3 separate regions of the Homo sapiens genome follow, and regions 1 and 3 are each linked to region 2. The links come from fine-mapping of genetic effects on gene expression. A gene starts in region 2. Each other region holds a variant in brackets. All regions are shown on one strand. Distances are from middle to middle.

Region 1 (2,763 bases), 40 kb before region 2:
TATTTACCCAAAACTTAACTAATAGCCTACTGTTGACTAGAAACCTTACTGATAACATAAGTTAATTAACATGAATTTTTTATATGTATTATATAGTATATTTTCACAATATAAAATAAGCCAGAGAAAACAAAATGTTCTTATGAAAATCATAAGGAAGAAAAAATATATTTACTATTCATTAACTGGAAATGGATCACCATAAAGTCTTTATACTCAACGTCTTCACATTGAGTAGGCTAAGGAGGAAGAGAAAGAGGAGAAGTTGGTCTTGTTGTCTCTAGGGTGGCAGAAGGAGAAGAAAATCCATGTATAATTGGACCCATGCAGTTCAAACCCATATTGTTCAAGAGCCAACTGTATAATATAGAGTAAAGACGGTTAGAATAAGGGTAAGCATAGGAAACTATAAGAGATCCTTTTCATCTGACATATATGAAAGTGTGGGAGTCAGGGAAGTCTCCTTGGAAGGATGACATCTAGAATATCCTCATCTAGACTAGCTGAGCAAACATTTCACGCACAGAACTGTACAAGGCTATTCTGACACAGAGAGATTTAAATCATACCCATGCACAAGCTCTCTCACATAGAGAAGTCTGAACAGGCCTGAACCATAATTGTGAAATCACATTTAGCATTGGGCATAGAGAGCTAAGGAAAGCCCAAGATCCAAAGTTGTTCACTCACAATATCAAGTGGTAGAGGGTGACATTAAAGATATATGTCAGGACTCCTGTTGTAAGTGAGAGAAAGCCAACTCAAATTAGTTTAAATTTAGAAAAAGATTGATTGGCTCAATACCTGAAAGTTCAAGGAGTGAGCTTTGGGAAAGGTTTGATTCAGGCACTCAAATGATGTTAACAAGACGTTGTCTTTCTCACCCATTCCTAGGCTGTCTTTCTTCTGTGGCAGTTCCATTCCCAGGCAGCTACGTGGTGACTTCAAGCTTATGATTCTAGTGCAGCAAGTCCAACAGAAGGAGGGTGTGTGTGTGTGTGTGTGTGTGTGTGTGTTTAAAGACGGTGTCTTGCTGTGTGGTCCAGGCTGTTTTTGAACTCCTGGCCTCAAGCAACCCTCCTGCCTCAGCCTCCCAAAGCACTGGGATTGCAGGCATGTGCTACCATACCTTACCAACAGAAGTTTATCCTAGTGCCAGGATTGACCACTCTGTCTTAGCTTGGTTTGTGGAAACACCTCTGAACCAATTATTGTGGCCAGGAGAATTTGTTACTCCTCTAAGGCTGGCCTAGATAACACTCTTACTTATGGAGCCAGTGAGTAGATTTAACTCCATCTGAACTACGTAGTAGAATACTGGGAGGGAATAGTTCCCCCAGGAAAATAAGAAAAATAAAGTACTTTTAGTAGAAGTAGGAATAAACATTGGGCCTGAAACAAACAAATAAAACAAAACAAAACAGTTATCC[C/A]ATACACAGAGATTGAGAGAAAACATACTCATGTTTTTGGAATACAGTCATCTGGGTGGCTCAATTTTATAGAGTCCTAAACACTAGGTGCTACAGAAGATGCAAAGATAAGCAAGAGATAGTCCTTACTCTTAAGGAGCAGTTGTCTACAATTTGGCCCTCAGGTCTGACATCACTCATCTCTCGAATCATGCCATGAGAATTTCTTTTTCTTTTCTTTTTTTTTTTTATTTTTGAGACAGAGTTTCACTCTTGTTACCCAGGCTGGAATGCAGTGGCGAGATCTCGGCTCACTGCAACCTCCGCCTCCGAGGTTCGAGCGATTCTCCCGCCTCAGCCTCCCAAGTAGCTGGGACTACAGGCACGTGCCACCACACCTGGTTAATTTTTGTATTCTTTCAGTAGAGACGGGGTTTCACCATGTTGGCCAGGCTGGTTTCAAACTCCTGACCTCAGAGGATCCGCCTGCCTAACATTTGGTATAGCCACTCCTCAAATACCTTTGCCTGAAGGAGGCAGGATGACTACGTAAAATAACATTTAGCAGGAATCCCAGGACTCTAATGATTGCAACCTCATGTTGCTAACATGATCTTGTAGAGACCAAGGGAAAACTTCCCTTTTACCCTCTGAAGTTTCACTGAAAAATCAACTGATGAAAGGAAGATTAGTAAGAGAAAAGGTATATACAAATGTATTGGCATGCATGGGGGAAAAAAAATCACAGATTGATTACTCCAGCCCTCCAATGGGGATGCAGAAGCTTATATACTATCTTGAAGTTACACAAAGCCTGGGAGCTCAGAGCACGACCAAAAACACGTTAAGGTGGTAGTTAAATCAGGTCATAGTGGCAAGACAGGTTATGGGTGGCTAGCAAAAGTGGCCTTGTAGATGAAACTTCACAGATAGTAGCCATCAGAGAAAATAGATGGTAACATTTCTTTTAGACCTTTAAAATATCAGACTCTCAGTTAATCCTTCCTAGATCAGATGCGAGATGGCTTCAGAGAAAGCTTGGCTGCACCAATGCAGCTGTTTCTCTGCAGATGCAAATTTCCTCCTACAAAAGACAGCTTTTCAGCTATTCTTCCATTTCCAGCCCTTCTATTTTATTTTATTTTTGAGACAGGGTCTTCCTTTGTCACCCAGGCTGGAGTGCAGTGGCCCAATCTTGGCTCACTGCAACTTCCACACACACAATCCCACAAGGCTCAAGTGATCCTCCTGCCTCAGCCCTTTGAGTACTGGGAACTACAGGCGCGCGCCACCATGCCCGGCTAATTTTTCTATTTTTTGTAGGGTTTCGCCATGTTGCCCAGGCTGGTCTCGA
Region 2 (2,763 bases):
TTAGGATATGTGCACTTTTTAAGACACATGTTTCAATAAAATTATTATTTTTTTAAATTCCACGCCAGGTACAGTGGCTCATGCCTGTAATCCCAGCACTTTGGGAGGCTGAGGTGGGTGGATTGCTTGAGTTCAGGAGTTCAAGACCAGCCTGGGCAACATGGGGAAGCCCCATCTCTACAAAAAATATAAACATTAGCTGTGTATGGTTGAGCGTGCCTGTAGTCACAGCTACTTGGGAGGCTGAAGTGGGAGGATCACTTGAGCCTGGGAAGCAGAGGTTTCAGTGAGCTCAGATAGCGCCACTGCACTCCAGCCTGGGCAGGAGTAAAACCCTGTCTCAAAAAAAAAAAAAAAAAAAAAAAAAAAAGAAAGAAAGACAAAAGAAAAAAAAATCCAGGAAGTCTATGAAAAGACATCAACTCAACATAATATTACTCAAGGTTATTACTATAATTTGTGAGCCGTCAATATGAGAGTCACTCTCTAACCTGGTTATTAAATGCACTGGATTCAAAACAGTTGTCCCTGGCCTAGAATAACTAAAATGCCAAATCAAGTTAATTATTTATCTTTAAAATCTCTAATCTCTCTGCTCTTCTCTCCCTTCAGTGATATTGTCATAGTTTAATCAAAGTCATCTTCCACCTTAAATTTCATCTGTCATCATCTCCTAATCAGTTTCCCAATAGCTTATTTTAACTGTTCTTTGCACACTAACCAAAGTGATGTAAAGTCTAAACCCAGACCCTTTCACTTCTTTTTTTCGAATGCCTCAATAGAAGCCCATTAAATTTAAAATGTAATGCCAACTCCAAGCCCCTGTCTGCCTCATCTCTCTCACATCATGCTGTTCTTTCCCTCCCTCAATATGCTGGAGACACTTTGGCTTTCTTTCTGTTCTTCCAAAACGCCGGGCTGTCTCACCGAGAGACCTTTGTCTGCTGTCCCCTCTGCCCAAAACAATTCATCATTTTATTGGTTCCATGGCTGAATGACTGATGGTTTAAATGCCATCTTATAAAGTTCTCATATAACAATCTTATCTGAAGTTATCCTCCAGTGTCCACACCATGCCTATTTCTTTCCTTGACATGATTAATTACTATTCTATGTGCTTGCTTACTTGTTGGTTTTCTCCCTCTTCTTTGTTAGACTGAAAATTCTATGAGGGCAGCTATCGTGTCTAGCTGTGTTAGGGGCGTATCCCCAGTGCCTAGCAAATGTATAGCATACAAGACGTCCTTCAATAAACACAGAAATACTTGTTTAATGAATTAATAGACATTCCCTAAAGATCACAAGATACCTGTTCAGCCACGAAGAAGACTGCACTGTGCACTGCTGTTCAAAGACATGGCAGTGAAATCAGATGCCTTTCAAACTCTAAGCCTAAGCAGTATTGGCATTCCGTTCTCGGTTTCCTGGCTGTCACAACTACAGTCCCTTAGCCCGAAGCGAAACCCCCTCCGCGCTCCGCCCGCTGGCTAGGTACCAAGTCTCGCGGCCCCACCCACCGCGCAAGCGCGCCCCCTCTTTGGCTGGGGAGCTAACCTCGGGAGGGCGGGGCGCCGCCGCGAGCCACCACTGGCACAGGGTGACGTCGCTCCGCCGCGCAGCTGGAAGCCTGCGAAGTCAAATAGCAGCCGCGGGGAGGCTCGTTCCCATCGGCATCTGTGACTGGCTGCGATCGAGGGCCCGGGCGGCCGGCCAGCCGTCTCGCCGAGTGCGGACTGGCCGGATCTGCTGTCAGTCAGCGGGAACAGACTTCTCCCTCTCCATCTGGTCAACTGCGGGAGAAAAATTTTCGAGAATTTCCAGCAGGCAAGGCAGTGGCCGCTTTGACTGCTTGCTTCGGAGATCCGAGACGACGGAGAAGGCACTCTTATTTACCGACCAAGAAAGCTCCTCCCCCGTCCTCCGTTAGCTAATTAAAACATTTTTCAGGGACGTAGCCATCCAGAGGTAAGAGCCTAGAGAGTGCAATTCATTTATTTCTGCTAACCATGTATGCTGTTCTTTATTGGCGGTCGCGGAATGGAGAGTAAACGGAGAAGGGTTTCCCGGGAGGTCGAAGGGGAGACGTCGGTTTCCGTTCCCCCGCCCCCCGAGTCGGCGCTTGGCCGGCGGCCTCTCGGAGTTCTCAGAGCGTCGCTTTCTTCCCTTTGGAGGTCGTGAGCAGCTCGTCGGGGTGAGGCGGGGCCCAGCTGGGCTGCCTGCGCCCCGGGCGGCGGGTTTCCAGCCCAGACTGCGCTCGGCCTTGAATGTGGCCGCAGGCTGGAGGGCCAGCGCGGCGCGAGGCGGGCAGGGTGGGTGGGCTGGGACTGGAGACCCTTGCCCGAGGCCCCGGAAGCGAGGATGCTGCGGGGTGGGTGCCGCGTTGCCTCCCGGGCGAGGGAAACGTGGCGACAACGGGCTCGGTACGCCCAGAGGGAGGTTGGGAGGCGGAGACCTGGCGGCAGAAGGTGCCGAGGGAGCCCAGCTATTTGCGAGGCTTCGCAGGCAGGCGGGCGTGTGTTCTTCCCACCGTGTGTCACCCTGACCACCCGCCTGTCAGGGCCAGCGAGCCGAGGCCAGGATCCTGAGCTGTACCCAGGTGAGCTTTTCAGGAGGTCCGGCATCGTGAAGGATGCACAGCCCCGGCTGGTTTTGATCCGAAGACTTGGGTTTTACTTTGCGCAGGGAGCGCTGTAGTACTCAAGGCGTTGTAGCTGGTGATGTCTTTTTCAGCAGCCGCTTTCTGTAGATGAGGGAATTCACCGG
Region 3 (2,763 bases), 55 kb before region 2:
TTTCTCTCCATTATCATGCACGCCTTTCTGTTCAGGATTGAGGTCATCCATCTGCAATCTCATATCCTCTTGCTGGGTTCTGTCAAGTATTAGTCATAAGGCAGTCAGCTTGCTTGTGTACACTTCAACAGCTCTTTTTCACATCAAGCCTTCCAGTTGTCTCTGCTTATTTTAGCCGGGTGCTCAAAGTAGCAGCTGGTTGCCTGGCTATTCCTAGGCAGCTGAAAGCATTGTGAGGAGAACACAAATGAAGCAGGAAGGAATAATCTGAGCTTGATGCTAAGATTTTTGTCTAAGACCTTCTGACCAGGGTCTGTTTCCTAACTGCAATCTGTCCAAAATGTTACTTCCCATCACTCCACATATTATAGCTATCTGATAATTATTAAAATCTGAATATCAAAGTCATTTTTGTATGGAGGGAATAATTAACATATGTACCTTTCCAATATGGCCTTAAATACGCCCCCAAATTCCTTAGCTGTTAATTTTTTTCTCCCACCCTAAAATATAGGTATTTTTAATATTTACCCTGCCCATTTAATAGCAATAAGAGAAGTACATCAGTTACCTAAGTCAGAGATCAGCAAACTTCTTCTGTATAGGGCCAGATAGTCAAGCTTTGTGGGCCACACATTCTCCAATACAATTATTCAGCTCTGCTATGGTAGCATGAAAATATCCACATAATACGTAAATGAATGAGCATAGCTGTGTTCCAATAAAACTATTTATACTGTGGTATAATTTTTAAAAATCTATATTTAATTTCTGCCCTGGTTCCCATCATACAGCTCCTAAAATATGAGGCATTTCTAGAGTGGTAAGAGTATCTTTTGTACACTAATGAGATGACTGGTGGCCCCTAAATAGCTTCAGGATGGGGATTGGTCAGAAAAACTAGGGCATGATTAGAGAGTTGGAACTTTTAGCCACATTTCTTAATCTCTAGGGAGGGGAGACAAGCTGAAGGTTGAGCTGATCACCAATGGTCAACTGTAGGACCTAGATTTTAGTATCTGTGGGAGTCTTGGAAATAATCCCCTTCGATTACTATAACCATAATCAGTCATGTCTACATAATGACCATAATTACCCAAAAGGACTGAGTTGGAAAAGCTTCTAGATAGCTGAACTCATGGAGGTGCCTGGAGGTGGTATATCCGAAGAGGGCATAGAAGCTCTGTGCCCTTTTTCACATACCTTGCCCTATTCATCATTTCCATCTGGCTATTCATCTGCATCCTTTATACTATTTATTTATTTATTTTTGAGATGGATTCTAACTTTGTCACTGCACCATGAGTGCAGTGGTGCAATCTCGGCTCACTGCAACCTCTGCCTCCCAGGTTCAAGCGATTCTTCTGCCTCAGCCTCCAGAGTAGCTGGGATTACAGGCACGCGCCACCACACCCAGCTAGTTTTTGTATTTTTCGTAGAGACAGGCTTTCACTATGTTGTCCAGGCTGGTCTTGAACTCCTGACCTCAAGTGATCTGCCCACCTCAACCTCAAAAGTACTGGGATTAC[C/G]GGCAAGAGCCACCATGCCTGGCCTGTACTATTCTTTATAATAAACCATTAAATGTAACTAAAGTGTTTCCCTGGATTCTGTGAGCCACTAGCAAATTAATCAAACCTGAAGAGGTGGTTGAGGGAACCTTGATTTATAGCCAGTCAGAAGCACAAATAACAACCTGGGGCTTTCTTTGTTTTTTTTTTTTGTTTGTTTGTTTTGAGACAGCGTTTCACTCTTGTCCCCCAGGCTGGAGTGCAATGGCGTGATGTTGGCTCACCGCAACCTCCACCTCCCGGGTTCAAGCAGTTCTCCTGCCTCAGCCTCCTGAGTAGCTGGGATGACAGGTGCTTGCCACCACGCCCAGCTAATTTTTTGTATTTTTAGTAGAGACGGGATTTCACCATGTTAGCCAGGCTGGTCTCGAATTCCTGACATCAAGTGATCCACCTGCCTTGGCCTCCCAAAGTGCTGGGATTACAGGCGTACGTCATCACACCTGGCCCTACAACCTGGGGCTTTTAATTGGTATCTGGAGTGCGGGCAGTCTTGTGGGACTGGGCCCTTAACCTGTAGGGTCTGATGCTATCTTCAGGTGGATAGTATCAGAATTAAATTGAATTATAAGACACTCAGTTGGCGTCCACTGGAGATTTGCTTAGTATGTGGAGAAAAACCTTTACACATCTGGTCACAGAAGTGTGCAACGGTGAAAAACAGTTTGTGCTTTCAAATTTGAATTTCATATAATTTTCATGTGTTACAAAGTATTTTTTTCATTGACTGTTTATAATCAGTGAAAAATATAAAAATCTATTCTTAGCTCAGAGGCTATACAAAAATAAGAGGGGAGGAAAGCAGGCCTGATCTGGCTCATGGGCCATACTTTCCCTACCTTTGGCCTAGGTTGGCAAACTGTAAACTTGAGGTTACAGTTATTAGAACCTAATATCCAATGTGATGGTATTAAGAGGTGGGGCCTTTGGGAAGTGATTAAATCATGAGGCGTTCACCTTCATGAAGGGAATTAATGCTCTTATAAAAGAGACCAAGGAGAGTTTGTTTGCCCCTGCTGCCATGTGGGGACACACAGAAGGCACCATCTACGAAGAATGGGCCCTCACCAGACACCAAATCTGCTGGTGCCTTGATCTTGGACTTCCCAGCCTCCAGAATTGTGAGCAATACATTTCTGTCATTTGTAAATTGCCCAGTGTAAGGTATTTTGTTTTAGCAGCCTGAATGGACTAA

What was found. PIP is the estimated chance that this variant, and not a neighbour inherited with it, causes the effect. A credible set is the group of variants that fine-mapping cannot tell apart.
Region 1: its variant is the best candidate, but not a certain one, in a credible set for the expression of PPM1K-DT in prostate (GTEx, PIP 0.84).
Region 3: its variant is the best candidate, but not a certain one, in a credible set for the expression of PPM1K-DT in sun-exposed skin (GTEx, PIP 0.89).

The regions. Positions count from the first base shown.
Region 1 is chr4:88,323,730-88,326,492 of GRCh38, reverse strand. All of the region lies in intron 3 of PPM1K-DT (PPM1K divergent transcript), which reads right to left. Among named protein-coding and RNA genes, the nearest start is that of PPM1K-DT, 40 kb to the right of the region's middle. The variant C/A (reference allele first, on the strand shown) is at 1,431.
Region 2 is chr4:88,283,608-88,286,370 of GRCh38, reverse strand. It overlaps PPM1K-DT (PPM1K divergent transcript), which reads right to left and starts at 1,441. Exons shown (of 5, transcript NR_134238.1): 1 at 1,310-1,441. It overlaps PPM1K (protein phosphatase, Mg2+/Mn2+ dependent 1K), which reads left to right and starts at 1,810. Exons shown (of 7, transcript NM_152542.5): 1 at 1,810-1,965. RefSeq lists a silencer at 1,448-1,667 and enhancers at 1,402-1,925, 1,838-1,927, 1,968-2,027.
Region 3 is chr4:88,338,761-88,341,523 of GRCh38, reverse strand. It overlaps PPM1K-DT (PPM1K divergent transcript), which reads right to left. Exons shown (of 5, transcript NR_134238.1): 4 at 572-662; 5 at 1-221. Among named protein-coding and RNA genes, the nearest start is that of HERC6, 39 kb to the left of the region's middle. The variant C/G (reference allele first, on the strand shown) is at 1,530.